Linked DNA regions of Homo sapiens. The protein of the gene in region 4 purifies or fractionates together with the protein of the main gene of each other region. This does not show direct contact. Each region holds a gene or a part of one and is shown on either strand. Other genes may lie near its edges.

What was found.
Region 1: the proteins of TMEM108 (region 4) and PDXDC1 purify together in Homo sapiens (affinity purification with mass spectrometry; 2 studies listed by BioGRID and IntAct, with this or other methods). This does not show direct contact.
Region 2: the proteins of TMEM108 (region 4) and METAP2 purify together in Homo sapiens (affinity purification with mass spectrometry; 2 studies listed by BioGRID and IntAct, with this or other methods). This does not show direct contact.
Region 3: the proteins of TMEM108 (region 4) and TBC1D9B purify together in Homo sapiens (affinity purification with mass spectrometry; 2 studies listed by BioGRID and IntAct, with this or other methods). This does not show direct contact.

Annotation. Positions count from the first base shown.
Region 1 is NC_000016.10:14,970,664-14,978,043, reverse strand, and holds the start of PDXDC1 (pyridoxal-dependent decarboxylase domain-containing protein 1), read right to left. Parts: upstream 3,019-7,380; 5' UTR 2,845-3,018; coding exon 2,824-2,844; exon of another isoform or gene 2,460-2,823; coding exon of another isoform or gene 2,412-2,459; intron 1-2,411.
Region 2 is NC_000012.12:95,469,977-95,477,152, forward strand, and holds the start of METAP2 (methionine aminopeptidase 2), read left to right. Parts: upstream 1-4,175; 5' UTR 4,176-4,203; coding exon 4,204-4,354; intron 4,355-6,094; coding exon 6,095-6,202; intron 6,203-7,176. UniProt on the Homo sapiens protein: Cotranslationally removes the N-terminal methionine from nascent proteins. The N-terminal methionine is often cleaved when the second residue in the primary sequence is small and uncharged (Met-Ala-, Cys, Gly, Pro, Ser, Thr, or Val).
Region 3 is NC_000005.10:179,904,894-179,912,151, forward strand, and holds the start of TBC1D9B (TBC1 domain family member 9B), read right to left. Parts: upstream 3,005-7,258; 5' UTR 2,929-3,004; coding exon 2,811-2,928; intron 1-2,810. UniProt on the Homo sapiens protein: May act as a GTPase-activating protein for Rab family protein(s).
Region 4 is NC_000003.12:133,033,809-133,041,400, reverse strand, and holds the start of TMEM108 (transmembrane protein 108 isoform 1 precursor), read right to left. Parts: upstream 3,011-7,592; 5' UTR 2,966-3,010; intron 1-2,965. UniProt on the Homo sapiens protein: Transmembrane protein required for proper cognitive functions. Involved in the development of dentate gyrus (DG) neuron circuitry, is necessary for AMPA receptors surface expression and proper excitatory postsynaptic currents of DG granule neurons.

The DNA.
Region 1 (7,380 bases), on a different chromosome or scaffold from region 4:
AAAGCAAGGGACAGAACTATATTTGGACCAAATCCAAATCACTGAGTGATTCTACTAAATGATGATCGCATACTACATTTTGTTTTTGTTTTTTCACATACATTTTAAAGTGAGAGATATTATTTTAAATTTTAGAGGGTGAGCATCAAATAACATTGTGGTTTCTGTAATCAGTATAAATTATGCAACAATCAGTTTAAATGGGATCATTTACAACTGCTCACATAGCTCTTGAGTTTATATTAACAATGTAGAATTTAACGCAGGATAGTCTATTCCTCAAAGAAACAGGAATAATGAACACAATTAAATGTTTCACTTTGACCCAGACTATTTTTCAGAACATAAAGTCATCAACATTCATATTACAGCAATGCTTTTTCTTTTCTGCCCAATTAGCACCAATATAAATCGTTTATTCCATCTAAGGCCCTGTATTACTTCAGGGAATATAAATCTAAGTCCCGGCCAGGTGCAGTGGCTTACGCCTGTAATCCCAGCACCGTGGGAGGCTGAGGCTGAAGGATCACAAGGTCAGGCGTTTGAGACCATCCTGACCAACGTGGTGAAACCCCATCTCTACTGGGAATACAAAAATTAGTCGGGTGTGGTGTCACACGCCTGTAGTCACAGCTGCTCGGGAGGCTGAGGCAGGAGAATCACTTGAATCCGGGAGGCGGAGGTTGCAGGGATCCGAGATCGCCTCACTGCACTCCAGCCTGGGCAAGAGACCGAGACTCCCTCTCAAAAAAAAAAAAAAAAAAAAAAAAAAAAGTAAGTCCCATAGTTCTGAAAAACTTACACTCAGAATTTTCACATTGACCTAAGGCAGAAACCTCCAGCCCACACGTTCTGAATTCCTAAAAGATCACTACAATTTTTGTGAATGCTCCAATATTAAACACACTGGAATTTCAGTCCCTCTTGCGATCCTCATTGAGAGAGTTTAAGATCTTTTATCATCAATTAACACTTAGGGAGCAACTACTGTAACCTACTGATCAAATGCCAGAAAAGTAATATTTAAAGCAGGATTCTGACCCACCCTGCAGATTTTCCTATAAAGGCTAATTATTCCTGGAGGAAAGATCACCCCAGTTCTTCAGGATTCCAATTACAATCACATGAAGCCCACCCACCTTCTTAGGAAATTGATAACACCACTTTGCATCGTTTTGTACTCAACTGCTGGTGTTATAAACATGATCTTGACCAGGATTTCTCAGCCTCAACACTGCTGACATTTTGGGCCAGAGAATTCTCCAGCGTGGGGGGCTGTCCTGTGCAACGTAGGATGTTTAGAGGCGTCCCTGGCCTCTACCCACTAGGTACCGGCAGCACCTCCCTGCCCCCATTGTGACAATCAAAACTATGTCCAGAGATAGCCAAATGTCTCCTGGGGAAATAAATTGCCCCCTGCTTTAAGAACCACTCATCTGGACAAACTCAAAGTACCAAAAGGTAGACACCCTGCTAATCAGACGACCGGAAAGACTTTATTCCCAGCCAGGAAAACACGTAACATTCACCCCAGAGATGGCACAAGAAAACCATATTATCTTTTTCTTGTCTTCCACCCAATTTATGCTAAGCAACCCAGGAGTAGGCTATACCACTGTGAGCACATGAAGACATCTGGCCCAACCTTTACAATTATTGCCTTCAACTCTCCAGTGACAAGTGAACAAAATCTACAGCAGCTGCTGCCTTGAAAAAAGACAAAATATATTATTCCTACCAGCTCAAAATTAAAATGTAGCCGTCTTAAAACACGAGCATTGCTCCTGAATGCCACATGCATGAAAAACCGGGTATGCACTGGATTGGACAAGCAGACTCCCAAGCTGGAACAGACAGAAGGGCTTTGAGGGAGGGCAGAATGTCAGGTACCGAAAGCAGGAATCCGTGAAGAAACCCAAACTGGTTTCCATTTACAAGCCCTAACACTGGGACAATGAGAATCCGTTTCACATGGTAGAGCAGTCAGCCTGGTACACCACGCTGCCGTTCCCCCAAGGGGAAACCAGAGGTAGGCTCTGTTACCAGTGGATTTCGAGTTGACTCGGGGATCCCTCCTCGCCACTGGAATGGGGGAGCCAGGAAGTTGTGGAGCAGCTGCGATCCCCAAAACTCAATTCGCAATCTACGCAACACCCACCCCTTTCTGGAACTCAGAGGTTCTCGCCCGGTGATCGCAGGCTCAGCATCAGAATCACCTGCGTGGGGCGGAGTGGGAGCGGGGCGGTGGCGGTTAAACACGCAGTTCCCGGTCCCGCCCCCAGAGGTTCTGACCCCGGGACTGAACCTCCGCATTTTACCAAAGGCCCCAGGTGATTCCCACTCAGGCTGAAGTTGGAAAACCACTGCTTTGGCAATTTTCATTCCTAACTCGGAGACCAAGAAAAACCTACAGGTTTGCAGCTGGCTCTGAAATAACTGCGGCTTCTTTCCGGGAGCATCTGGGGCCGCCAACGGAGAGCTCCCGGTCCTCCGAAAGGGCCAGCCGAGCTCAGGCCGGCCACTCGCGGAACCTCGGCAGGGCCCAAGGTCGGCCCCGCGGTCCCAGTCCTGGGCTCCGGGCCCGTCGCGGCCCCCACCGAACCCCGCCCAGCCTCTTCGGCCCACGGGGACCCAAGAGACACCCGGCCCCGTGACGCGCCCGGGCCCCAGCCGCCCTCCCGGCGAGGCCTCCTCAGGCAGGGCCTGTCAGCCCGCGTCCCCCTGTCCGGGTCACAATGGCAGCTCGCGACTGGGAAACAGTTGCCTCGGAAGCGGGAGCCCCGGGCCGCAGCACCGTCCCCATCGCCCCCTCCCGGCACGGACCTTCTCCAGGGACGCGTCCATGGCTGAGGCGGCCGGTGGTGGCCTGGCGGTCCCGGGCTCTACTTCCTCCTCCCGCGCCCCGCAGCTCCTTCCACGCTGGCAGCGCTGACGTCCCCCGCGCCCGCGGCCGGCGGGGCGGAGAAGAGGAGGAGCTGCCAGGCGGCGCCGCGGGCTGCCGAACCTGATGGTTGAGAGGCGGCGGGGCGGGGCCCCGTAGCGCTGGGCGGAGCCCTCTGGGATTCCGTACCTGGGCGCCACGCCGGCCCTCCCTAACGTGCGCAGGTGAAGGGGGGAGGATGCCCGGTGGATTGTTCACCAAACTCTTTCCAGCAGCCTGTTGCAATCATCAAGGTAGAAGTATAATAATCACAAAGTACTATTCATGGAGTGAAAGGCTGGAAATACTAGTGACGCACCTCACTTCCGGGCCCAGGCTTCCAAGTCTCCCGCCTCACCTCCCGCCGGCATCCCTCGAGAATGGAACAGGCCATTCGCCAAGGAGGCGGTGAGCGAGTGGGCAACCTTGCGCATGCGCAGGACTCGCAGCGTCCTCGGCGCCCGGGGACTTGGGGGTTTTGGGGTTGGGGGCTGCTTAGTGAACGCTGTTCAGAGAAGGCACTGATCTAAGCTGAGGTGTTGTCTCAGACCTTACCGCCGAATTCTAGACGGAAAAAATTGTTGTAACAACCGGTCCAGCCTCTTTCATGTCACAATTATCACTTGTCAGGTAATGGGTAGTAGTAATAATGATAATATTAATACATCAGCTGCTGTTCTTCCATTTTCCTATTTCAGCAGCTCTAGGAGATCATTATCCCCATTTCGCAGTGCCGATCTAGGTAGGATTCAGACCCAAGCCCCATGAGTCCACATACTGCTTCCACTCCTACTTTACTTTAAATGTTTTAAAAAGTTAATTTTTTATTAATTTTTTTATCTTGTTAACCGATGAACTGAAGAGAAAAAAAATTAAAATCTCATTTTAATAGAGAAGGTAGGGGTGTCTCACTATGTTACCCAAGCTGGCTTCAAACTCCTGGCCTCAGGCGATCTTCCCGTCTCAGCTTCCCCAAGTGCTGGGATTACAGGCATGAGCTACCACGCCCGGCCACTTTTGCAATTTTACTGCAATGTGTTTCGAACGAATGGGGAGGGCGTACATTTGCTTAGTAGATTCCTCCCACCTTAATGTGGGAAACTGATATAGACTACCACAGTGGCAATCAATGGAACACTTCACCTCTGCGATGACGCTACAACCACAATCTTACTCCTTTTCTCTCCTGTTTTATACTCTTCGTCCCGAAATCTGTGTAAACAGGGTCACATTTTCAGCGCAGTAACTCCATGTTTTGAGCTATCTACGTTGTATTTGGTAAATTGCCTGGTTATGTTAATAAAATTATTTTCTACCAAAAAACCCTTGTGTGCTGGTTTAGACTGTACTGTGGGGATTATTCTGACTCTCTAAAGAGCTTTCCAAACAGAAGGAAAGATAGATTTATGTCTTTCAAGAATTGAAGATTGAATGTACCCCTGCTTGAGCAAAACAAGTCACTTTTCCAACGTGTTATGAAATTTTTCAAACGTAGAAAAGTTTAAACAGTTGTACAGTGAACAACCATATACCCACTACCTAGATTCTACAGTTAATTTTCCCTATATTTGCTTTAATCACATATGCATCCATATATCCATCCATCGATATATGTTAGTACATTTCACCTCTGAGCACCTCAGCATGGGTATCATTCAAAACTAGTAAATTTTACTAAAGTCACCTCCAAGTTTCTGTGGATTACATTACAAAGTATAATAGATTCTACAAAACAAATACTAGAGAGAAAAGTTAACTTTACTGTTTTAAAAGTAGACTTTGAAAACCCAACATGAAAAAGTGGAAATAATCAACCGTATTATTTATTATATTTAGCCAAACATTTATTGACTGCCATCTTGGACAGTTGTGCTGGAAATAGTATGTAAAAGAATAAGAGGCTGGTTCAAGAGCAGCCTGGCCAACAGAGTGAAACTCCGTCTCTACTAAAAATACAAAAAATTAGCTGGGCGTGGTGGCAAACACCTGTAATCCCAGCTACCTGGGAGGCTGAGGCAGGGGAATCACTTGAACCCCGGGGGCAGAGGTTGCAGTGAGCCGAGATTGTGCCACTGCGCTCCAGCCTGGGCAATAAGACGAGACTCCATCTCAAAAAACAATAAAAATACAAATAAGAGGCTGGGCCGGGCGCGGTGGCTCACGCCTGTAATCCCAGCACTTTGGGAGGCCGAGGCGGGCGGATCACGAGGTCAGGAGATCGAGACCATCCTGGCTAACACGGTGAAACCCCGTGTCTACCAAAAATACAAAAAGAAATTAGCCGGGCATGGTGGCGGGCGCCTGTAGTCCCAGCTATTCTGGAGGCTGAGGCAGGAGAATGGCGTGAACCCGGGAGGCGGAGCTTGCAGTGAGCAGAGATCGCACCACTGCACTCCAGCCTGGGCGACAAAGCGAGACTCTGTCTCAAAAACAAAATATAATAAAAAATTTAAAAATTTAAAAAAGGCTGGGCGCGGTGGCTCATGCCTGTAATCCCAGCACTTTGAGAGGCCGAGGTGGGCGGATCACCTGAGGTCAGGAGTTGGAGAACAGCGTGGCCAACATGGTGAAACCCTCGTCTGTACTAAAAATAGAAAAATTAGTGGGTGTGGTGGTGTGCGCCTGTAATCCCAGCTACTCGGGAGGCTGAGGCAGCAGAATCGCTTCAACCTGGGAGGCGGAGGTTGCAGTGAGCCAAGATTGCACCACTGCATTCCAGCCTGGACGACAAGAGCAAGACTCCGTCTACACACACACACACACACACACACACACACACACACACACACACACACAAAACAAAGACAAGCTCTCTGCCCTGAAGAAAAACACTATTTTGGGTAGAAGTTTTTACTTTGGGATGCAGATGGAGGTCTCTGAAACTATACTCAACATTTTGTGTGTGAGTGAGTGCATTTTTCTGGGGAAAACATCCATTGTCTTCATTATATACTCAAGTCTGTGATTCCCCCATCCCCGAAAAAAAAAAAAAAAAGTTGAAACCATTTGGCTTGTGGATGCACAGATAGGAAAACTGATACATTATAATGCAACATTCTATGGACTAGTGAAGAGAGATAAGCAGAATATTGTACAGTTTGGAGCATGAAGCCATCAGTTGTGGGGAGGTTTAATCTCTACTGACATATGGCTTTATGTGCTGCTAACAGACCTGTCTTTTTCTTTCTTTTTCTTTTTCCAGACGAGTCTCACTCTGTTGTCCAGGCTGAAGTGTAACGGCGCAGTCTTGGCTCACTGCAACCTCTGCCTCCCCGGTTCAAGTGATTCTGCTGCCTCAGCCTCCCGGAGTAGCTTCGACTGGAGGCGTGCGCCATCGCACACACTGTATTTTTAGTAGAGACAGGGTCTTACCATGTTGGCCAGGCTGGTCTCAAACTCCCAACCTCAAGTGATCCTCCTGCCTCGGCCTCCCAAAGTGTTTGGATTACAGGCCTGAGCCACCGAGCCTGGCCTCAAACACTTCTCTTTTTTCCTTTTTTTTGAGATGGAGTCTCGTTCTGTCGCCAGGCTGGAGTGCAGTGGCACCATCTCTGCTCACTGCAAGCTCCGCCTCCCGGGTTCAAGCAATTCTCCTGCCTCAGCCTCCTGAGTAGCTGGGATTACAGGTGCGTGCCACCAAGCCTGGCTAATTTTTGTATTTTTAGTAGAGACGGGGTTTCACTAGTTGGACAGGCTAGTCTCCAACTCCTGATCTCAGGTGGTCCACCCACCTCGGCCTCCCAAAGTGCTGGGATTACAGGCGTGAGACACCAGGCCCAGCCTCAACTGTAGACTTTTAACTCAAAGGTACAAAAATTGGATTATGTCTGGGCCAGTTTTTTCCCTTGTCGATGGTATAGCCCATTGGTTAGAGTTCAGACTGTGGCTACAAGTAGAACTGGATTCTTTTTTTTTTTTTTTTTTAAGCTGTATAAGTGAAAACTACTTGGGCAAGTTACTTAACCTCTTGGTATATTAGTTTCCTCATCTGTAAAATTCTGGTTATGCTTGCCTTTTAGTGTTTGTTAAACATTCTTATGCTCAAAAAACAAGCAAATAAAAACTCCTTATCTTCATCCACATCCCCTTCTGGTTACACCTAATGGTCTCAATTTTCTCATCACACAAGCACCACCAACTCATCTGAATCTAGCTTCGGCCTTGTTCCCTCCACCCAAACCAGTGTCACTAAAACCATCTCAGTCCATCACACCTGACCTCTCAGCAGCCCTAGAACCAGATGATCACTTTCTTCTTGAAACTGACTTTCCATGCTTCCCACAATATCAAATTCTCCGGATCGTCACCTTCCCTTTCTGCCTGTTCCTTCTCAATGTCTTTTGGAGTTTCCTCCTCCTCCACCCAATGTTTCATTGTTGGATTTCCTCAGCACTCAGCTGGCAAGCCTTTTTTTTTTTTTTTTTTTTTTTGAGACAGAGTCTCGCTGACTCACTGCAACC
Region 2 (7,176 bases), on a different chromosome or scaffold from region 4:
GTCGCCCAGGCTGGAGTGCAGTGGCACCATTTCCGCTCACTGCAAGCTCCATCTCCTGGGTTCACGCCATTCTCCTGCCTCAGCCTCCCGAGTAGCTGGGACTACAGGTGCACACCACCACGCCTGGCTAATTTTTTGTATTTTTAGTAGAGACAGGGTTTCACCTTGTTAGCCGGGATGGTCTCGATCTCCTGACCTCATGATCCGCCTGCCTCGGCCTCCCAAAGTGCTGGGATTACAGGCGTGAGCCACCGCGCCCGGCCTGAACTAGCAGCATTTTAAGTGCTCAGTGGCAACGTGGTAGGTGGCCACCATGCTGTGCAGTACAGGTAGACTCTCATGTCTAGATCCACTTGCTGGATGATCTTATCTGTGTCAAAGTTCCAATTCCCATCTATTAGTTGATGACTCAAATTTTTATATCTGCTCCAACTATTCTTTTGATCTCCAGTTCCTTATAGTTATCCACCTTCTTCACAGCTCCACTTTAATGCCCCAAGACACCTCAGACTCAGCATGTCTCACATCTAACTCATAATCTTCCCTTTCAAATCTGAAATGTTTTTCTATCTCTGTTATTTACATTACATTACCAGTCAATCCAGTTTCACCAGCACACACCGAAGGGGATTCCTTGATATCTTCTTCTCTCTCAAATCCCTTATACAATTCATCACCAAGTCTTGCCCATTTTATCTCCCACATATCTCTTAAATCTATTCATTTTTTTGGTCATACCCATCATCATTCCCTTTCAAGCCACTATAACCTATTGACTGTAATAGCCTCTAAACTGATCTCCCTGCTTTCATTCTGGCCACCCTCAACTCTACTCTGTACACTGCAGCCATGGTGATCTTTTCAAAAATCTAATCATGTTAATTGCAACTCTCATCAGGTTAACTGTCTCCTCACCATTAAAATACTTAAGGGGGCTGGACACAGTGGCTCATGCCTATAATCCCAGCACTTTGGGAGGCTGAGGAGGGCGGATCACCTGAGGCCAGGAGTTTGAGACCAGCCTGGCCAACATGGTGAAACCCCGTCTCTACTAAAAATACAAAAATTAACTGGGTGTGGTGGCGCGTACCTGTAGTCCCAGCTACTCGGGAGGCTGAGGTGGAAGAATTGCTTGAATCCGGGAGGCGGAGGTTGCAGTGAGCCGAGATCATACCACTGCACTCCAGCCTGGGCGACAGAGCAAGACTCCATCTCAGAAAAAAATAAAAAATAAAAATAAAATACTTAAGGGAGGTAGGTGGATCACCTGAAGTCAGGAGTTTGAGACCAGCCTGACCAACATGGTGAAACCCTGTCTCTACCAAAATATACAAAAATTAGCTGGGTGTGGTGGCATGTGCCTGTAGTCCCAGCTACTTGGGAGACTGAGGTGGGATAATTGCTTGAACCCAGGAGGTAGAGGTTGCAGTGAGCTGACATCACGCCACTGCATTCCAGCCTGAGCAACAGAATGAGACCCTGTCTGAAAAATAAATAAAAAAAGTAAAATAAAATACTTAAGAGTTTTATATTGTTCTTAGGACAAAGTATAAAGCCCTTAGTATGATCTAAAAGGCTCTGTCAGCTCTCCTACCCTTTCCTTCCTGCAAGGCTCTTACCTTTCTAGTCTCATCTCATCACACTCACTCCCTTCTCCACCTCTTTGCATTCCAGCCATTCTGGATGTTTTTTAGTTCTTTAAATGTGTTATACTCCCTACTGTTTTACAGATGAGAAAATCAAGGCTCAAAAATATATGGGCTGTCCAGAGTCACAAAATTATAGCCAAATGACCATTCTAGTATTAGAATCCATGTCTCCTCTTAAATACCTCTTAAATTTTTCTTTACCTTCCCTTTGCCAAGAATACTCTGCCAGGCGCAATGGCTCATGCCTGTAATCCCAACACTTTGGGAGGTTGAGGCAGGTGGATCACCTGAGGTCAGGAGTTTGAGACCAGCCTGGCCAACATGGTAAAACCCCGTCTCTACAAAAATTAGCTGGGTGTGGTGGTGGGCGCCTGTAATCCCAGCTACTTGGGAGGCTGAGGTAGGAGAATCGCTTGAACCTGGGAGGCGGAGGTTGCAGTGAGCTAAGATCAGGCCACTGCACTCCAACCTGGGTGATAGAACGAGACTCCGTCTCAAAAAAAAAAAAATACTCTCTCTAAACCTTTCCCCTCCCCTTTGCCTATTTATCCTTCAGATCTCAGCCTAATTGCTACTTCCTCAGGAAACTCTACCAGGCCATCCTACCTAGGCAAGTCCCTTTGTAATATGCTCTCATAGCAGCAGTTGTAAATTTGCTTTTATTAGCATCATTGCTTGATGTCTATTTTTGTTAACTGGCTCTATGATGACAAGGATCATCTCTGTTTTTGCTCTCTAAATATTGCCAGATCTAGGTTTATAGTAGGCATTGAACGAATGGATGGATGAGTGAATAAGTGAATATGTCAGCCAAGCAAAGAGCAGCCCAGATAAAAGTAACAGTGAGTTTGAAATGCTCCAAGGTCAGAAAGAGCTTTGAGAGCTGGAGCTATAATAGTAAGAGAGTGGAGACATTGGAGAAGTAGATATGGCTGGGTCTTGCCGGGCATTTTAAAGGATTTTGGACACATGGAAGCTACTTCTATTTTTATTTTTGTGGTATTATGTTTGGTTTACCAACTTTTTATTTTTTATTTTATTTACTTTTTTGGGGGGGATGGAGTCTCGCTCTGTCGCCCAGGCTGGAGTGCAGTGGCGCAATCTCAGCTCACTGCAACCTCCCCCGGGGTTCAAGCGATTGTCCTGCCTCAGCCTCCCTAGTAGCTGGGACTACAGGCGCCTGCCACCACGCCCGGCTAATTTTTGTATTTTTAGTGGAGACGGGGTTTCACCATATTGGCCAGGCTGGTCTCGAACTCCTGACCTTGTGATCTGCCCACCTCGCCCTCCCAAAGTGCTGGGATTACAGGCGTGAGCCACAGCGCCCGGCCGGTTTACCAACTTTTATATTGCCAGCAATCAACTAGGGAAAACAATTTAAAATCTAAATAGGGATAGATTTAAAGAGATAAAGATCTGTACAAGAATAAGAGGAACAGTTTTTATTACTATTGGATAGGTGCTGCCTGAAGCTTTAAGACAGAGAATGTACATTTATGCAGCTGCAGTCAGAGCCTGTGTGAGGTTTACTGTAAACTCACTGGCAATAAGGCTCTTAACGACATTTTGATGCCCATGAAGCTTGGTGCCTAGTTTAAAACTAATGAAAACACCTAAACTCTCCAGGTGGACAAAGCCATATTCAGGAGAAATTGAGAAGGAGTTGGTGCAGGCAGCCAATCACAATCCACTTACGCCACAAACTAAATCTCAAACTGCGGTTTGAACATGAGGCTCAAAACATAAGAAGTAAAGAAATGGGCAAAATTCAATTAGTTTCTGGTGAAACGTCCTAAATCCAAAAGAAAGGTGACCAGAAATAGAGAAAACGGAGTGTGATCTTTTGCATTAATGAGAGAGACCGTGTCCCCGTGTGTTAAAACCTGTCATTCTTGTCCTGAATTGGAAAGTGAGCGGAGTGTGACGGGTTCCCATCTTGAACCGTCCGGGGTTGAGTAGTACAATAAACTAACACGGAACTCCAGCTTCCAAAATTCTCTCCAGTGCCTACAGAGCCTCGCGGAGAGCTGTGATTGTGAATGTCAACGCAGATTTGATTAAATCTCTTAGATTTAAGAGATATGTGGAGTCATGACAATAGAAATGTGTACAAGTGAACACATTTCTTAGCCCGTTTCCCCACTGCCTGTGTGATTTATAAAAACGCAAATATAAAATATTTCCGTTCCAGCAGAGACGCCGCTTGCTACGGCGGGTTGCCCGTCTCCACAGGTATCTCCGGCTGACTCTAGAGCTCAACTTCCCCTTTAAACTTCACCCTGCGCTTGCCGATTTGCTTCGGGAATGCCCGAGGCACCGGACGAAGCAGTCGGGTCTGGCCCCAGTCGACTCCAGCCAGGCGGGGCTCCAAGCCGAGACTCCTGCACGCCCGGCCCGAAGCTAGCCCGACACCCTCAGCTGAGTCCTCCGCCGTCCCAGCATTCCCTGCGTCCCTACCATCGAGAGCAGCTTCCGGCGTGGCTGGTGTAGGCGGGTGGAGAAGGATCGGGGCCCTCGCCGCTCTGTCTCATTCCCTCGCGCTCTCTCGGGCAACATGGCGGGTGTGGAGGAGGTAGCGGCCTCCGGGAGCCACCTGAATGGCGACCTGGATCCAGACGACAGGGAAGAAGGAGCTGCCTCTACGGCTGAGGAAGCAGCCAAGAAAAAAAGACGAAAGAAGAAGAAGAGCAAAGGGCCTTCTGCAGGTAAAGAGAGTTTTATGTTTTCCCAGTCCCCTCCGGGAACGGCTGAACTGTTTGGCTCAGGCCCGTTGAGGGGGCCGGGACCGGGGCCCCAGAGCCCCGACTAGACTGATTCTTGGGCCTGACAGGGTGGCAAAGCCGGGCTATAGATTCCTAGTCTGAGAAGAGGCGTCATCTCCTCCTGTGGGACTAGAGGGCTGGTGGGGGAGAAAAGAGTGCCTGAGGTTGGCGTGTGGTACCTCTGGGGTCGCTGGGCCCGAGCCCCTGTATTACCAGAACTCAGCTCCCACGCACATCGTGGCACGGTCTTGAGATTGTGCGCAGAGCACAGCCCTACCATCTTTCGCGCGATTTGGCCGCCGCCTCAAAAATCCGATTCTGATCCGTATTGCCGCGTCTTTGCTGGTTTGCTGGAGCAAGCTAGGACTTATTTTCTTTGGGGGTGGGCAAATGTAATGGAGAGCACACCTCCTCCCACTATCCCGTTTCACGTTGGGGTTGTTGCAGCCTGCACTTTTGGGGTGTGTGTACATGTGTGTTTGCCCGCGCGCTCATGTCATTAATTGCAGAATTTGTGGTGGTGATAACGAATTTTCACCTGCCTAATCCCATAGCATCGCCAAGCTTTAGGGCCTTTAGACCTGAATTATGATACCAATTGCAGGCAGTGCAGATAGGATATTCTGTGGCTCAGAATGGAACTTCTGAGGTCTTAACCTCTAAATCCACTGGTAAGGCAAGGAGAACTGCTGAGAGTTTACAGTTGGATATTATGAACTAGGAACTTACATATTTTGAGAAGTCTGTGTTTTTGCTGCACAAGCTCCTTCACCTTAATAAAAATTATTTTTACTTGTTTCTAATTAAAATCGCCAGAGAAACAGAAAATGGAGAAGTCAGAAGCGATTAAGATGGAATTGAGAGAGGTCGAAGAGAGCTAATCTTCATCTTTCTGAAATTTTGATTAGATAGGAATGGAAGGAGAGTTGTAGCGTTGCTGGAACTCTTCCAGAGCAAAATTTGTTACTCTGGTGGCTGTTCCTGGATTTCGAGTGAAATTCAAACACTGCTGTTTGTCTTGTAAGGTGTTAAGCTGACTGATCCTAATGTATTTTTAACAGTTGTATTTCTTAATATGAATTCTCTCCAGTAGCCAGAATGTCACTTCATTTCGTGCTACCTGATACTATTAATGCATGTAACATATTGCTCTTATAGGTAGGTTATAATCACTTCCAGAGCAGGGGCCTGGTCTTGTGCTTAGATATTTGAGCGTTTTAGTTTTTTAGTAATGGACTGTCTTTGCCTATTTATTTTGACTTTACCCAGCCCATCGTGATATCCTTATTCATGAAACCAGGCTGCCCCGGGGTGTTGCACATGAATCTTTTTCCTAAGGCCTTCAGCATTTATTACCTATCTGGTGTTTAAGTATTTGTTAAGTCTAATTGCTGACCACTATTACAAGTTAAACTACTTGAGGATAGAGACCAGTTCACGCTGTTTATCTTTTAGCTGCTAGTGTGTGTAATGGATATTTTGTTGAGTAAATTAATGAATGGACAATACTGTGTAGGTATGGAAGATTTTTCTGTCATTAAACGAATTCTGTTATGTTCACAATAATGTTTCTGTTTTTGTTTCCTGAGGAAAGGATTTGTAAGTTTTCCAAGATCATTAGAGCATATTCTAGTGGGAAAGTGTCTGTATTAGATTTGATTTCTGCTATTTTATTTTGATCAGCAGGGGAACAGGAACCTGATAAAGAATCAGGAGCCTCAGTGGATGAAGTAGCAAGACAGTTGGAAAGATCAGCATTGGAAGATAAAGAAAGAGATGAAGATGATGAAGGTAAATGGTTAATTTGATCTTTGTGGTTAGAAAAGCTAGAAAATGTAGCCGGGTGTGGTGGCACACACCTGTAATCCCAGCACTTTGGGAGGTCGAGGCGGGTGGATTACATAAGGTCAGTAGTTCGAGACCAGCCTGGCCAACATGTTGAAACCCCATCTCTTCTAAAAAGACAAAAAAAAATTTAGCCGGGTGTGGTAGCACACACCTGTAATCCCAACAACTTGGGAAGCTGAGGCAGGAGAATTGCTTGAGCCCGAGAGATGGAGGTTGCAGTGAGCTGAGATTGCACCACTGCACTCCAGCCTGGCCAGCAGAGTAAGACTGTCTCAAAAAAAAGAAAGAAAGAAAGAAAGAAAGAAAAGCTAGAAAATGTGATATTCCTTAATCAAAATTTATTTACTCGTATAGTGTTTTCTCTGACATTTCACTTGTTACCTCAATTAATGTCACAGATTAAAAAGGAAAAGGTATTTATTAGCAAGTCTTGAAAAAGTTCAATGTGTTAATTAGCTGTTCAGATAGGACAGATCTCAGAGTTTAAAAATATACTTGGTAGAAGGCAAAGTAGTGAGTATTAATAAGATTGAGGGGTTGTTTATTTAACTAATACTTACTGAAGAACTACTATGTACTAGATACTTTCCTAGGTTATTTTCACATACATTCACATTTTAACCTCACAAAACCAAGCAAAGTAACCTACTTGTGCTTAGATATCCATTTTGTTTTTTGGTAATGGACTGTCTTTTCCTATTTATTTTGACTTTACCCAGCCCTTCATGGCTTTACCCAGCCATCTCATTTTACAGATAGGGAAGTGGTAGTTACATGATTTACCCAAAGTGACATAGCTAATATGTGTAGAATAGAGCCAGAATTTCAAACCTAGTGCCTGACTGCACGTTTGTTCCTTTTACTCTCTATTTTTTTTTTTCTTTTTGAGACCGAGTCTCGCTCTGTCGCACAGGCTG
Region 3 (7,258 bases), on a different chromosome or scaffold from region 4:
ACAGGATGGTGACGCTACCCAAAGGGTCCAGCCCAACGAGGGAAACGTCCGGAATGACCCCTGCGGTCAAAGGCCTTCAGCCAGTGTCTGATCCCGATCAAAAACATCCCCTTCTACTTCTTCCTGGAAGCATCTGCTTCTTCTCCTGGCTCAGAAACACTTGCAGGCAGAGGCAGATACAAGTTTCATGGGGCCAGAGCTTAAACAATTCTGGGAAGCCCTCTTTACGTATACAAAACTAGACTACAAAACAAGTATTGCTTTAGACCGAGAAAGTACAGAGCTACACGTTAAAGTTAAAAAAGAACAATATCAGAAATATCACAAAATCCAGAAAACCAACACAATGTTTTCCTAACTGCCATGTGCGTCTCCTGAAATACGTCTTCCGGACAGTTCTGGTCCTGTACTCATCGCTTCTTCACACACAGGACAATGATTCTGCAACATTATTTTCCATATCAAGAACAGAAAGATAATGTCTCCCCTTTGCCATGACTCACTGATTTTTTATTACCGACAGTTTAAGGAAGTTTCTTTTAGCCTCAAAAAATCATAACTGAAGAAGTCGATCTTTAGAATTGTCAAATTTGGGAAAATATAAAGTTTTTTCATTTCTGAACTGAAACATTTGAGGGCATTTCAAGTTTTTCTTCTCATCACATATACCCCTTTGATAGATGACACACATTAAGCAGTCTGTGGCAACGCTATCTTTGCTTTTATATTTTAGGTAATGCTATCTTTGTCAGTGTCACTATTTCCTGACAAATCAGCAGGAAATATATAGCTTTTATCATTGTTTGATTCACTAATTGAATTATCGAGCAATCTAAAAACCTGTTTATTGTTTTTACTTGAAATTTTTTCTTCCTTTTAACGAAGTGCTGCTTTTGGCATGATCTGAAAATATTTTGTTACCATTTTTCCTGTTGATGTCAGAACAATTTTTATTGCTGTTATTCAACTTTAACACTTTTGTTTCATAGTCCATTAATACTTTTTTGAGATAGTCTCGCTCTGTCGCCCAAGGTGGAGTGCAATGGCGCCATCTCGGCTCACTGCAACCTTGACCTCCTGGGTTCAAGCGATTCTCGTGCCTCAGCCTCCCGAGTAGCTGGGATAACAGGCGCGTGCCACCATGCCTGGATAAATTTTATATTTTTAGTAGAGACGGGGTTTTGCCATGTTGGCCAAGCTAGCTATTCAGATTCTTTAATGAAAAGTCTAGGTTGGCATGTTTTTAATAGATGGCTTGGATAAAACCACATCCCTGTCTGCTCCTCTTCAGGGAGGACAGTACTCAGGAGGCCACGATGCCCATGATGGCACAGGGAAGGCCCTGTCAGAGGGCACAGCAGGACACACCAAACCTAGCAGTGGGGAGAGATTGGGAGAGGGTTCAAAGAAGGGTTCCCTTGGGGGGACCCTGGGAGCTCGGTCCCAGGGGACACGGAGAGTGAGGTGGAAAGGAGAAGAGCCCGCAGGAAGGAGGTGTACAGAGACCGGGCTGCACCTGCACCCGCCCGTTCAATGAGACGACCCACATAAGCCTGCCGAGCACAGCACAAGTGTTTCAAGTACACCAGCGAATATGACACACTGGCGCGCTGATGACACCCTGGCGCGCTGGCGGAAGAAAAGGTGCCGGTCCCTCGCTTTCTTCATCGGGCTTGCAGTAGCTTCGAGGTTAGCCACAGGGGCTGCCGACTGAACAGCTGGATCTAGGAGGCGGGTCCAGAACAGGAGCCCGAGATCCTTGAAGCCCACTGGGAGGGAACCCGAAGCTGAAGGGAACACTGAGTGTTTCTGGGAACAGAACAGTCTCTTCCACATGAAGAAACGTGGCCCAGGAGAAGCCTCCGTCTGCATCTGGCTATTAGCTGCTCACACTGAAAATCAGGATGATTCACAGAAAATGCTCTTGATAAACTGGACGACCTGGCAACACTGGGACCGCAATCCTGTAGGGCAACAGTCGGTGCCCCGAAGAGCACAGGCACTGAGCCCGAGCCAGCCGGGCTCCTGCAGTGCTGGGCGCAGGCCCTGGAGCATGAGGGGCCCCGGACACCACCTGCGGAGGGAGTGGCCTGTGGGCCTCCCCTGGATCCCACAGGCCGCACGACTCCAAGGGTGCCTGTCCAGCTTCATCCTGTGTGATGGTGGCACCCGGGCCCACAAAGGGCCACCTTGGCGAGCTTGCAGGAACACCCTGTGCCGCTACCCACAGCCTTGGGTGCGCAGCTCTGAGAGCAGCCAGGAGCAGGAAAGGTGGGGGAGGAGAAGCTGGGGGAATGGGGGTGCGGCCAGCTCCAGGGACCTCTGATCTTGCTAAAAGGGCGATACTTTGGTGAGATGGGCACGAAGAAGAGGGCAAAAGAAAACGTGCGCTGGCGTCACCTGGCCCCTTAGAGGCACCTGGGGAAACTGAGGTGGAGGATGAGGACAGGGCGGTCTCGCCAACTTTCGGCGGTGAGATCCCGGGAAGCTGCACGGCCCCCGGGGCTCGCGGGCGCCGAATCCGGGCAGAAGCCGCCGCCGGTCTCCACTTGGCCGCCCCAAGCCGACCTGAGGAGAGCCCGCCGAGGGCGCATTCGCCTCCCGCCAGCCCCTCGCCTCCCCGCCCCGGCCCCTCCGCGCCCGGCTCCCGGGTCCTGGCCTCGCGCCCCCGCCCCGCCGCGCGCTGGCGTGCGTGTCCGCCGCGACGCGCCGAGGCCGGGCCGGAACCGGACCCGCCCGCCGCCCGCCGCCAGCCCCGCCGCCAGCCCAGCCGCGGCGCCCACAGGCCCGGCCGCCCGCGCGCCTCTCACCCGTAAGGCCGCCGCCCCTGCCGTGGCCCCGGCGTCGCTGCAGCACGAAGAAGGGGTTGGCCCGCTCCGTCACCCACAGCGCATTGGCCACCAGCACCTCCTCCGGGCTCAGCCACATCGCGGAGCCGCTCGCACCGGGCCGAGGCCCGCGAGACGGAAGCGCCCGCCGCCGTCGGCGTCCCGGAGCGGAGCGTGCGGAGCGGAGCGTGCGGAGCGGGCCGGGGCGGGGCGGGGCCGGGCGGGCGGCGCCCCCTGGCGGGCGTGTGGCGCTCCCGCACGCGGCCCGAGTTCCGCGCCGCCCCCTCAGCCCCGGCCTCGGGCGCGCGCCAGCCTGGCCTCCTGGAGCGGTGCAGCCCACGGCCTCCGGCCTGGGTCCAGAACGGAACGGCCCAGTCCGCAGACAGGGGAGCCGCTGTGCAGAGCAGGGCTTCTGGCGTTTTGAAAGCTGTGCAGTGTGAGAGAAGGATGTCAAGAAGCAGAGTTTGGCGGCTTTTGGCTGGTTGCGCGTGCAACCCGGGGCGTGTTAGCACTGCAAAGGGCGCCTGGAAAGGGTTTGCAGTTCCTCCTAATTCTCAGCTTTCTTTTCTTTTTTTTTTTTCGACAGAGTCTTGCTGTGTCGCCCAGGCTGGAGTGCAGTGGCGCAATCTCAGCTCACTGCAACCTCTGCCTCCCGGGTTCAAGTGATTCTCCTGCCCCAGCCTCTTTAGCTGGGATTACAGGCTCCCGCCAACACGCCCGGCTAATTTTTTTGTATTTTTAGTAGAGACGGGGTTTCACCATGTTGGCCAGGCTGGTCTCGAACTCCTGACCTCGGGTGATCCGCCTACATTGGCCTCCCAAGTCCTGGGATTACAGGAGTGAACCATCGCGCCCGGCCAGTTCTCAGAATTCTGACACTGGGGCCGGGAGACTAGAAGAATCTTCCAGCGCAGGGCAGGTGCCAGGAGGCCCTGATACGGGCTGCATCCTTGGAAATCAGTGCTGCCCCTCCCCTGACAGACGGGTCACAGAGGCTGGCCGGCCCTGGGGATGGGGTCTGGACTGGCCCTGGGCCCAGTGGCGGCTTCTGCGCAAGTGTGAGGCTGGCTGCAGGCGAATGCGGGTCCCTGGTCTCCCAGTGTTGGCCTGCAGGGGCAGCGCCAGTCCACACACAGCCTTCTGCATGAGGGGGCTGTCAACTCCACCTGGGACAACGGGCCTGGGGCCTGTCCGGGGTCGACTGGGATGTGGGGTCACCCTGCTGGCTGGAACCCTCACCAGGGTCTGGCTAGAGGGCAAAGGGAAGGGGGCAGTTAAACCATCCTTGGAGCTGGACCTGACTTCCAGGTGGGTTTCTGTGATTGGCACTCAAGAATCTTGGTGCGATGGATGTAGGTACATGCAGTTGACACCCAGAGTGATCTGCAGTCTTCTTCAATGTTGCTGGATATAGGAATCAGCTTTCAAGATGCAGAGGCGGGCTTTCTTCAACACCTTGGAAGTCTGAACTAATATTGTCATTGTGCTCTCTAGAGGGAAAGAATTTGGAAGAACTGCACTTTTTAACACCCTGAGAGGAGGTAAAGAGTCGTCTTGTTCCTTAATCCCAGTGGTTCTCAAATTGGGTATACATTAGGATCACCTGGAAGGCTGATTCAAACAGGCTGCTGTAGTCCCAGCCACTTGGGAGGCTGAGGTGGTAGGATCACTTGAGGCCAGGAGTTCAAAATCGGCCAGGGCAATATAGCAAGACTCCATCTGAAAACAAAACAAAACAAAAAACAGCCACACAGGTTGCTGCCCCCTCCCTCCCAGGGTGTTTGCACTGCTAACTCGTTCCTAGGTGATGTTGATGCTGCTGACCTGGAGACCACTCCTCGAGAATGGTTTTTTATAAGAAGAAAAAGAACAAACATTTATCGATCACTTAGTATGTGCGTGCTAAGCTTACTTCTTTTTGATTTTCTGAGATATAAGTCACATTCCGTAACGTTCACTCTTTTAAAGTGCAAAACGTAGTGGTTTTTAGTATATTCACTAGGCTGGGCATCCATCATCACTAATTCCAGAACATTTTTATCAAGTCAAAAGAAACCCCTTACCCATTAGCTGCCATTCCCCACTTCCCCCCGGCTTTGCCCTGGCAACCATCAATCTATTTTGTCTCTATACATTTTTCCCATTCTAGCCATTTCTTCATATAAATGGAACCTTACAATATGTGGTCTTTTGTGTCTGTCTTCTTTCACTTCCCATCATGTGTTCGAGGTTCACCCACGTTGTAGCACGTATTGATGCTTCATTCCTCCTTATGGCTGAATAGTACCCCACGGTATGGATGCACCGCATTTTATTCATTTGGATGGACATTTGGATTGTTTACCCCTCGTCTATTATAAATAATGCTGCCATGAACATGTGTACAAGTCTTTGTGTGAATATGTGTTTTTAATTCTCTTGGGCATATATTGAGGAGTGGTATTGTTGGGTCATGTGGTACAGCTATGTTTAACTTTTTAAGCAGTGACCACACTGCGCTCCAAAGCAGCTGTAGCATTCCACATGCCCACCAGCTGGGTGTAAGAGTTCTAGGCAGGGCGCGGCGGCTCACGCCTGTAACCCCAGCACTTTGGGAGGCCGAGGTGGGCAGATCACAAGGTTAGGAGATCAAGACCATCCTGGCTAACACGGTGAAACCCCGTCTCTACTAAAAATACAAAAATTAGCCGGACGTGGTGGCATATGCTTGTCCCAGCTACTCGGGAGGCTGAGGCAGGAGAATTGCTTGAACCCGGGAGGTGGAGGTTGCAGTGAGCCGAGATCACGCCACTGCAACTTCAGCCTGGGCAGCAGAGTGAGACTCCGTCTCAAAAAAAAAAAAAAAAAAAAGAGTTCTAGTTTTTCCATATCTTGTCAACACTTGTTATTGTCTTTCTTTTTTTTTGATGCTCATTTCTAGAGGGTGGGAAATGGTATCTCGCTGTGGTTTGGATTTCCATTTCCCTGATGACTGATGATGGGCTTTTGGGTTATTTGTATATTTTATCTGGAGAAATGTCTATTTGGAGAAATGTCCTTTGCCCATTTAAAAAATTTTTTTATTTTTTTATTTTTGAGACGGAGTCTCACTCTGTCGCCCAGGCTGGAGTGCAGTGGCATGATCCTGGCTCACTGCAGCCTCTGCCTCCCAAGTTCAAGCGATTCTCCTGCCTCAGCCTCCCAAGTAGCTGGGAGTACAGGTGCGTGCCACCATGCCTGGCTAATTTTAGTATTTTTAGTAGAGAGGAGGTTTCACCATGTTAGCCAGGATGGTCTCGAAATCCTGACCTCAAGTGATCTGCCCGCCTCGGCCTCCCAAAGTGCTGGGATTACAGGCGTGAGCCACTGCACCCGGCCTCTGGCTCCAGTGCTTTTCCACACGTGTCAGACACGTGCTGCCTTTGCCCCCAGCATTCACTTCTCCCGTCTGTGCAGTGTCGTTTGTTTTTCTGCAGTGGGAACCGTGCCTTAGAACGCTCAGCTCTTGTCTGTCAGGTGAAGACACATGGACTCCTGGGCTGTGAAGGTGGAGCCCATGCCAGCTGAGGCCATCGGTGCATTCTATCTGTGATCACAGGGGCTGGCTGGTGATGGCCATGTGCCTCCAACCAAGTCAGTTGGGCCAGGGAAATACCGTCCTGACCTGGGCCACCTCCTGGGGACTGGCTCTTGTGTTGATGGAGCTACTGCCACCCTGAGCCTGGGGATGGGGTTCCCAATGAGGAGCAAAGTTGGCATGTGTCTTGGTGTCAGCATTTGAGGGTGAAATCACACCAAGCCTGACATAGGCACCCCTGGGCATTTTGGCTTTTGGGAGCCATGACATTCCCCTTTTGTGTTAGCCAGTTTTGGCTGGGTTTTCTGTCATTTGTAACCAAGAGAGTCCTCAGTGATACACGTCACCACCAACAATACTCCATGTGGTCAAATCAGCTTTTTCAATAGGTTTTTATTGAAATGGTTATATTAGCAAATTCTGCACATACGGGTGTACACTGTTGGCATATAGGTATATACCATACAATTTCACTACTTGATTATACTTACACCAACCATGCAGACCAAGGAGCTGTGCTGCCCAGAACATTTCAAAGGGTTGATGAGATCTGATTGTCAAGAACCAGCTCACACTCTACTTGTAGGTGTTTGTGTTCCAGACAAGAAAACTCCCCCGACAGGGAGGCCCGAAACTGAGCTAATCGTCAGTTTTGCTTCTTGAATATTGACTGTTCTTTCTGGCACAAGCTATCCAATGAATTAAATTAAAATTTTAATTAAAATTCAAGTGCATAGTTTCCTTTTCATCCCTCAAGGTGGAAGATAAATCATTTGCCACATTTAGGTATATCCCAAGCCTCCCCACCCCCACATTACCTGTGCTATAGTTAGAAAAATAGTTTTGTACGCCATCTTCTGAGATGTTGTGCATA
Region 4 (7,592 bases):
GGGTACAACTTGTTTTCTGGGAGCCCTGGGGGGTGACATGAGCCAAGTGAAGGAACGGCAGCCTAGATTTAGGTCTCTGTGAGCCCTTCTTTTCTCAAGCACATTACAAGCATAACTGATGCTTACAACCTGAGACGTGTAACTACCACAGGAGCTTTCATCTTGTGAATGGCAGGTCCTCTGGAAGCCACATAAAGCCAGCCAGGCTAGCCAATGAGGCAGCTCTGCCTTGAAATGCCTCCTCAAGGATCCAAAAGCAGCCAGCAGAGCCCCACTGAATTAAACATTTCCTGGCTCTCCTCTTTCCCCAATGCTTCCCTATCAGATGATCTCACCCAGTGCCCCCACCTGTGGCTCTGTTATCCAGCTGTATCTTACAGCATGTGTCCTAAGGAAGGTACTCAGATCCCTCTCAATATGAAGGCTCTTATACTTACACAATGTGACACAGATCCTCCTCAGAGGACACTACTGCTTAGGCATGCAGGTCGGACTCTAATCTCTCTCATTCACTCTCTATGTTCCCCGTCCCTGACCCAGGGGACAGAAACGACAGAAAGGAAATGATTTTGTTGCTGCTTTGAAAGCAACACTAGTGGGCTTTTATTGAATCAGAGAATAAAACCTTGTCCTATAGGTCACTGAAGTACGTTGCTAGATGGACTAAGCTTGTTAATCTTTTTGTTGTCCCTTGCATAACCTAATCAGTGTTTCCCAACCTTTTCAAAATCCCTGCCTCCCTTCCGCAGGCCAAACAAACAATGCATACCCTTTGCGGTTTATGGAACAAAGATTAATTTCTCTCCTCTGAAAATAAAAGTGTATACTATGCCACCTACCTCACCCTCAGCATTCTTTTCTCCCCTCTACTCCATGCCACTTAAAAAAAAAAATTTTCTGGCCGGCATGGTGGCTCATGCCTGTAATCCCAGCACTTTGGGAGGCTGAGGCAGGTGGATCACGAGGTCAGGAGTTCAAGACCAGCCTGGCCAATCTGGTGAAACCCCGTCTTTACTAAAAAATACAAAAATTAGCCGGGCATGGTGCCTCACACCTGTAATCCCAGCTACTCGGGAGGCTGAGGCAGGAGAATCGTTTGAATCCAGGAGACGGAGGTTACAGTGAGCCGAGATCGCACCACTGCACTCCAGCCTGGGTGACAGACGGAGACTCCGTCTCAAAAAAAAAAAAAAACAAACAAACAAACAAAAAAAACTGTGATAAAGTTTTTAAATTATTCCCACTAATTTGGTTTGTGTGAAGTCTATCAGGTGACAACCTATATTTCACTTTACTAGGGTCATTTGTGATATTCTAAATGAGCTTTGCAGCAACTTGTTCTTTTACTTTCATTCATCTCAGAAAACCGACAAAATTTGATTTCCGGTGGCTGATAAACCTGAATTTGATACCCCTAACAAATTTAGGTGTTCCCTCTTAAAAAAATATATTTATCTTGCCTAGTAAACTGAATTCTTGGCAAGTGTAGGCATTTCACAGGCATGGGGTGTGTTTTAGAGGTTTGAAATCAGGTCATTTCCTAAAGAAACATGTTGTTGTACAGGGAATGTAAGAGCTATAAAGGGCTTTGAAGGTATCAGGATGTCTCCAAGGGACAAGGTAGAGAGACCCTTATCCATCTCATACCAGAAAGAGTTCTGAATAAATTACGTGGAAAGTCCAGAACACAGTAATATCTTCATAATGAGTTAGTTGAACCATTTCTTACAGAGTAGATTACCAGGTGTATCCAACAAATCAAGAAGTTAACCCGTGGAAAATTGAAGGGACTTTTTATGTTTGCCTATGAGCTGTCTGGGGAAATGGAGGAGAGGCAGGGAATACTTTCCATAGCTTGACCTGCTCTTAAGTTCCTGGACATACCTTCCCCTTTTTAAAGTATGATTTAAAGGCAACAATCCATCTCCCCCGGACTCCCATACAAACCTCTTTTGGCAGCCAAATGGTCTTCATCGAGCACACACTTTTCAAAGAATTAAGGACGTGTGAGTAGGTTTAGTTTAGACCCTGCCTTCCCTCTCCCCACAACCCAGTAACATGCTGAAAATAAGTAATAACCTTCCTGGGTACCCCCAGAAAAACCTGTTTGCAGAAACTACAACCTTTCCTCCGAAAAAAACCCCTATCTTCTTAAGGAAGAATCTCAGTGTGGTGGTCTGCAGTTCACTGCAGGCATTTCCCTCCTCACCATTTACCAGTCATCAGTTACGCTGCATCTGAAATTGGTTTTTGTAGACTTTCATTTAGACCGGCTCCACCGGTGCCCAACTGCTTAAAAAAAAAAATAGCCCCTGAACCAATCTCTGGATTCCTCCAGCAGGCTCAAAGCGTTCAATTTCGCTGCAACTCTGGGGTGAAAACCGCCAGGTCCAGCCGGCAGAGCAACCTCCCGGGCAGCACGGAGGCTCCGTCCCCGGCGAGGCCGCCGGCACCTAGGCAGGAGGGCTCTTCGCACAGCTGCGCTAGGAATTCGGCTCCGCTCGCGGCCGCAGGATTAGTTCGAGTCCCTCGGGCTGGCCAAAGTGACACTACATTTCTTCTTCTTCGTTTCCCCATGTGACAGGTCCCCCTGCATTAAAGCCACCTCCTCCTCGGCCCCAGCCCAGGTCCAGCGCTCCTGACGCCCGCGCCCCATCACCCGCACCCTCCACCTGGGGAGGGGGTTCATGCCAGCAACCCTCCAGGCGGGAAACAAAGGCGGAGGCAGGGCTGCCAGGTGGGCAACTCCCCTCGGGCAGACCCGTCACGCAGTGGGGAGGATGGGAAGGTGCCTGAGAGGATAGGAAAAGGGAAACCAAGGCAACCGGGGCTGCATCCTCCCTGAAGCTGGGCTCCCGGGGCAAGCTGACCCCACACCTCCCCGAGCCCCGCCCAGCCCAGCCTAACCCGCTTGCCGGGACCCAGCATGGGAAGGACTGGGGGGACGCCCCGGAGCGCCGCTTACCTCGGGAGAAGCGCTCCGGCTCCCTCCGACGGCTCAGGAGAAAGCCCCACCGCTCGCGCACGCGCTCTCGCGCACTCGCGCCTTCGCCCCTCGGGCCCCCGCGCGCGCCCCTCCGACCAGGCTCTGGCCCGCCCCGGCCTTGTCCGTCAGCGTCCGCGACAGCCAATCCGGTCGCACGGAAGGCTCAGCGCCGGTCACGTGGTGAGACCAGCCAATCACCAAATTGCCCTCGGCAGCGCCCGCTCCGATGTCTCTGGGGGTTCGGTTGCTACCTAGCAGAGCGGGTGCGAGGCGGGCACAAAGGGTCTCTGTTTTCGGGGGCTAAGTGGCACTCAGTTGATCAATTACCAGATCAATTGACTTCTCAAATTCTAATATAAATAAGAATCACTTGACTCTCTTGTTAAAATGCGGATTCTGATCCAGAAGGTCTGGGGTGGAGACCTGAGATCCTGCATTTCTAATAAGCTCCCAGGTGGCGATGACGAAGCTCTTGGTCGGAGGATCACGCTTTGAATTGCACCTGTCCGAAAGTAATGGCTGTAGCCCCAGCTCCACGTAATTTGAAACTTGCACGACCTTTCTTGTCCTTCTTCCACTGATGAGAAGCGTTCCTGTGGCTACATGGGGTGTCCCGGTGATGCTTACAGTTTGGGCACCAGCTGAGGGAAGGTGTGTTTAATCCCCACATTACCCACCCTTGGTCTATGGAGCAGCAATCATGCCAACTTGGTGACTGGAGTGTGGAACCAGAAGTGGAGACGGAATGGCCATGGAAGAGAACACTGTGTCTACGTTAATCCTAAAGGGTTGGGCGTGTGTGTCTGAGTGGCGCGGTGCCAGACACTTGGCCAGAGAAGTGGTATAAGTGGTCCCTGCTTCTCAAAACGTAACAATTTGTTGTAGAACTATACAGGCTAGTTCAGAAAGAAGCATGTGGAGAAAACATCCGGGAAGCTAACAGTCACAGCACAAATTCAGGCATAAGCTAAAGAGGTTGTAAAATAATATGCCTTGAGGGTCTTAAAAACTGTCCAAATATTCTTCTGTCAGTAATTCCAGAGTCTAGAAGTTAGGACTCCCACTGGCCCTGTCATTTCTCAAATTTGACCTAAGGACTCAGTGTTTTCGGACTGGCCAGCTAGAACCTTTGTCGTTCAGCGTAGCCAAGCTCTTATTACCCAGTAGTGTACCGCCGTGGTTCAAGATTCTTAAGTGCTGAATTCTCCAAAACCTTCATCTCTCATCTCTTGAAACCAGGTGGTATAACCCTGCTTCAGCATTTCTCTCTCACTATCAAGGTGATCAAACTGTCGCTTAGAGAAAACTTCACCTTTGTCAGTGTGTCCTGAACTTCTCTGGCTTCTCATCCCCAGAAGTGAAGCCCACCTAGCAATCTCAGACATTGTTCATCACATTGTCCCTATCAGAGATGGCATCGCACAAAATTCAGAGTTTCTGGGAACATGTTAAACCTGTCACAGCAATGGTTCTGGCTACAGCAGGAGTAAAGAAATGTCTAAGCAAGAAAAATGTTTTGAAAGCCTCAAAAAAAGTTTGTTTGCTGTCATTAAACCAGTGGTTCTCAAGCCTAGCTGGATGGTAAGTATTTATGGAAGTAGGTTGTGGGGCCCTGTGCCTGGAGATTCTGATTGGGATGAGAAGTGGGGCTTGGGCAGCTATAGGTTTAAAAAGTTCTACTGGCAATTTGATATCCATCCATGCTTGAGAACACCTGCATAAGCTGCTAGATCGATAGACGCATTTTTTAACAGGGAAAACTAAACTCTGCAACACAAATCACTAATGACATACACACTCTGAAAACAGAAGAAAGTTTCCACATAATTTTTGAGAACTGATTTTTAAAGGCCAAAAATAATTCATAGGTAATAAATACTCCAAAGACTAGTCAATGGAATAAATTGAAAAGCTAGGTTCACAACTAGGTTTAATTTCAATTGATTAACTAAATATTTCTAAAAGAACGTATTGCCTTTTGTTAACCATGCCAAACTGATAAACTCTCTGGTAATAGCTTTACTTGTTTTATGCCCTTCTTAACTAAAACAGATTTCCATTTGAGCATTTATTTTTTATTTTTTAAGTTCCGGGGTACATGTGCAGGATGTGCAGGTTTGTTACAAAGGTAAACGTGTGCCATAGTGGTTTGCTGCACCTAGCAACCCATCACCTAGGTGAGTCTATTTCAAAGATTCCAAGGGTTCCCAATTCTCTTTACTGGCGTTTTACCAAATTCTGTTACTTTTTAAAAGTGATTAGTGCCTGCACCTTGGAAAACTATTGTACAACTTTTTTATGGTGTGATATTCAATGTAGTGGAATATGACCTACTTAGATTTTAACTAAATTAGTGAGATCCCTCAGAACATTCTACCAACACCAGCCATCCTACTCAAAAGTGACTTTATTTGTGACACCAGAAATATGGAAGCCCAATGTGTGAGCCTGCAAACTAGCTTCCCTCCTTCTGTGACACTTTTAAAAATATATTTCACAGCATTCAAATGGGGGAGAAATTTTTCTCACCTTGTAAACTTGCTTTATCTATTGAGTAAAACAAGGACAGTTTTCACTGCTACTTAACTGAGTAATGTAAATTTTTAACTAGGAAAAAAGCATTTATTTTTCTCTTTGTGGGTGTCATTATTACAGAAAGAAGCAACAAGAAACAAAGACTCTTGCTTGAGGATGTGAATTTGAAAAAAAAAATCCAGGCTGTCGTTCATCCTCTGTTTTTCAGTCTACTTGCCTCATACATATAACCTGGTTTTCCTGTCTTGGGAAATGGATATATTAGTAACTTGATATGAGTTAGCTCAAACCAGGTTTCCTACCCCTTAGTCCAGAAATTGCCCAGCAAGAGATTTAGGTATATTTGAAAAGAAAGAAAAAGATAAGATATAAGCCATCCACCATTTTGCCAAGTCCCAGAAATCCACCCATTGTTGTATTATTATTAGAACCCCCATAGACTGCTTTATAATTGCTAATTACCTTTTTATCTCTCTGACAATAAATAGCTTCTCTAAACTTAATTGATTTCATTCATGAAGACCGATAGATTACCCAAGGTTCTAGTCTCCATCTGTCATACAAATCCTGGCAGGATAACATTTTGTGTCTATGTATCTGTGTTTTAATAACTGATACTTTTATCCCTTTACTGTGACTGTGTACAGATTTAACCCAACCACAAGGCATTTTTGTAGAAAACTTGGTTTTCTTTATATTCTCTATAACGAATGTTAAGAATATTAATATTCGCTTTTATATTTTCACAAAACAATTTAGACTTAAAATATGTGTAGATAATATATACCTCTCTGTACCTCCCCCAACTTAAGAAATCAAGCATTATACATACAGTTGAAGACCTCATGTGCCCCTCCCAACAAGCTGATTTTTTTTAAATGGAGATTTCAAAATTTGCAAGCTTATTCACCAAGGAGAGATAATGGTTTATGGAAGGAACACCTATCTCATGCATGTAATAGGCAATACAAGTGTAAATGGGCAAAAGTCTTACTGAATAAAATGTTTGGACATTCCAAACTGATATAAGAAAAAGCTAAGAAAGCTGGAAATCACCTGTGGTTCAAAACCTGTGTCTTAACAATTACAAACTGGACGTGGGAAGCAGGTAAGCTTCAGAAAACAACAGTTTGGAGCAGAGATGAGGTAAGGATTCAGGTTTCATTCTTTCAATCAACACACTACATGAGCCTTGTCTTTTAGCTCATTTTAAGAGAGGTAAGCTACCACAATTCAAAATAAAAACTTTTATGTTACAAGCGAGGCGCATAACACTGTAAGATCGCGTAGAGATGGAGTACCAATTCTGACTGATGAAATCAGGGAAAGCTTTCTGCAAGAAATTATACGTGAACTGAATTCCGGAGTTGTAGGAGTTAACCAGGTGTTGTGGACTGTTTCTCCCCAAAATTCATATGTTGAAACCTCCCATCCCCAGTGGATGATGTTGGGAGGTGGGGCCTTTGGGAGGTAATTAGGATTAGATGAGGTTGTAACGGTAGAGCCCTCATGAATAGGATTAATGCCCTTTTTAAAGTCTCCAGAGACTTGCTTCTGCTCTCTGCCATGTGAGGATACAATAAGAAGTCAGCAGACTGTCATCCAGAAGAAGTCCCTCACCAGCACTTGTCCATGCTGGTACCCTGATCTCCAGCCTCTTGACCTGTGAAAATAAATTTCTGTTGTTTATAAACCATCCAGCTTATGGCACTTTGCTATAGCAGCCCGAATGGACTAAGATGCCAGCAAAGGGCAAAAGAAAGGGTGTTCTGGGCCTAGGGAACAGCCCACATGAAAGCATAAGAGCATAGAGCATTGGGAAAGAGAAAGTAGTGTTATTTAACTGGGTTTAACAGGAGAAGGGGAAAAAATGATGATTGAAAGGTGGGGCAAAGACCAGAATTGAAAAATTGCAAATGCATGATATGCCATTCCTCCCTCCTCCTGTACATATGGCAGATAATCAATCATAGTATTCAACTCTGTTATAGTGATTATGAGTAAAATCTAGGGCTACATGGTATGGGTTGAAATCCCAGCTCCTCCAGCTGTGTAAACCCAGACAATTTGG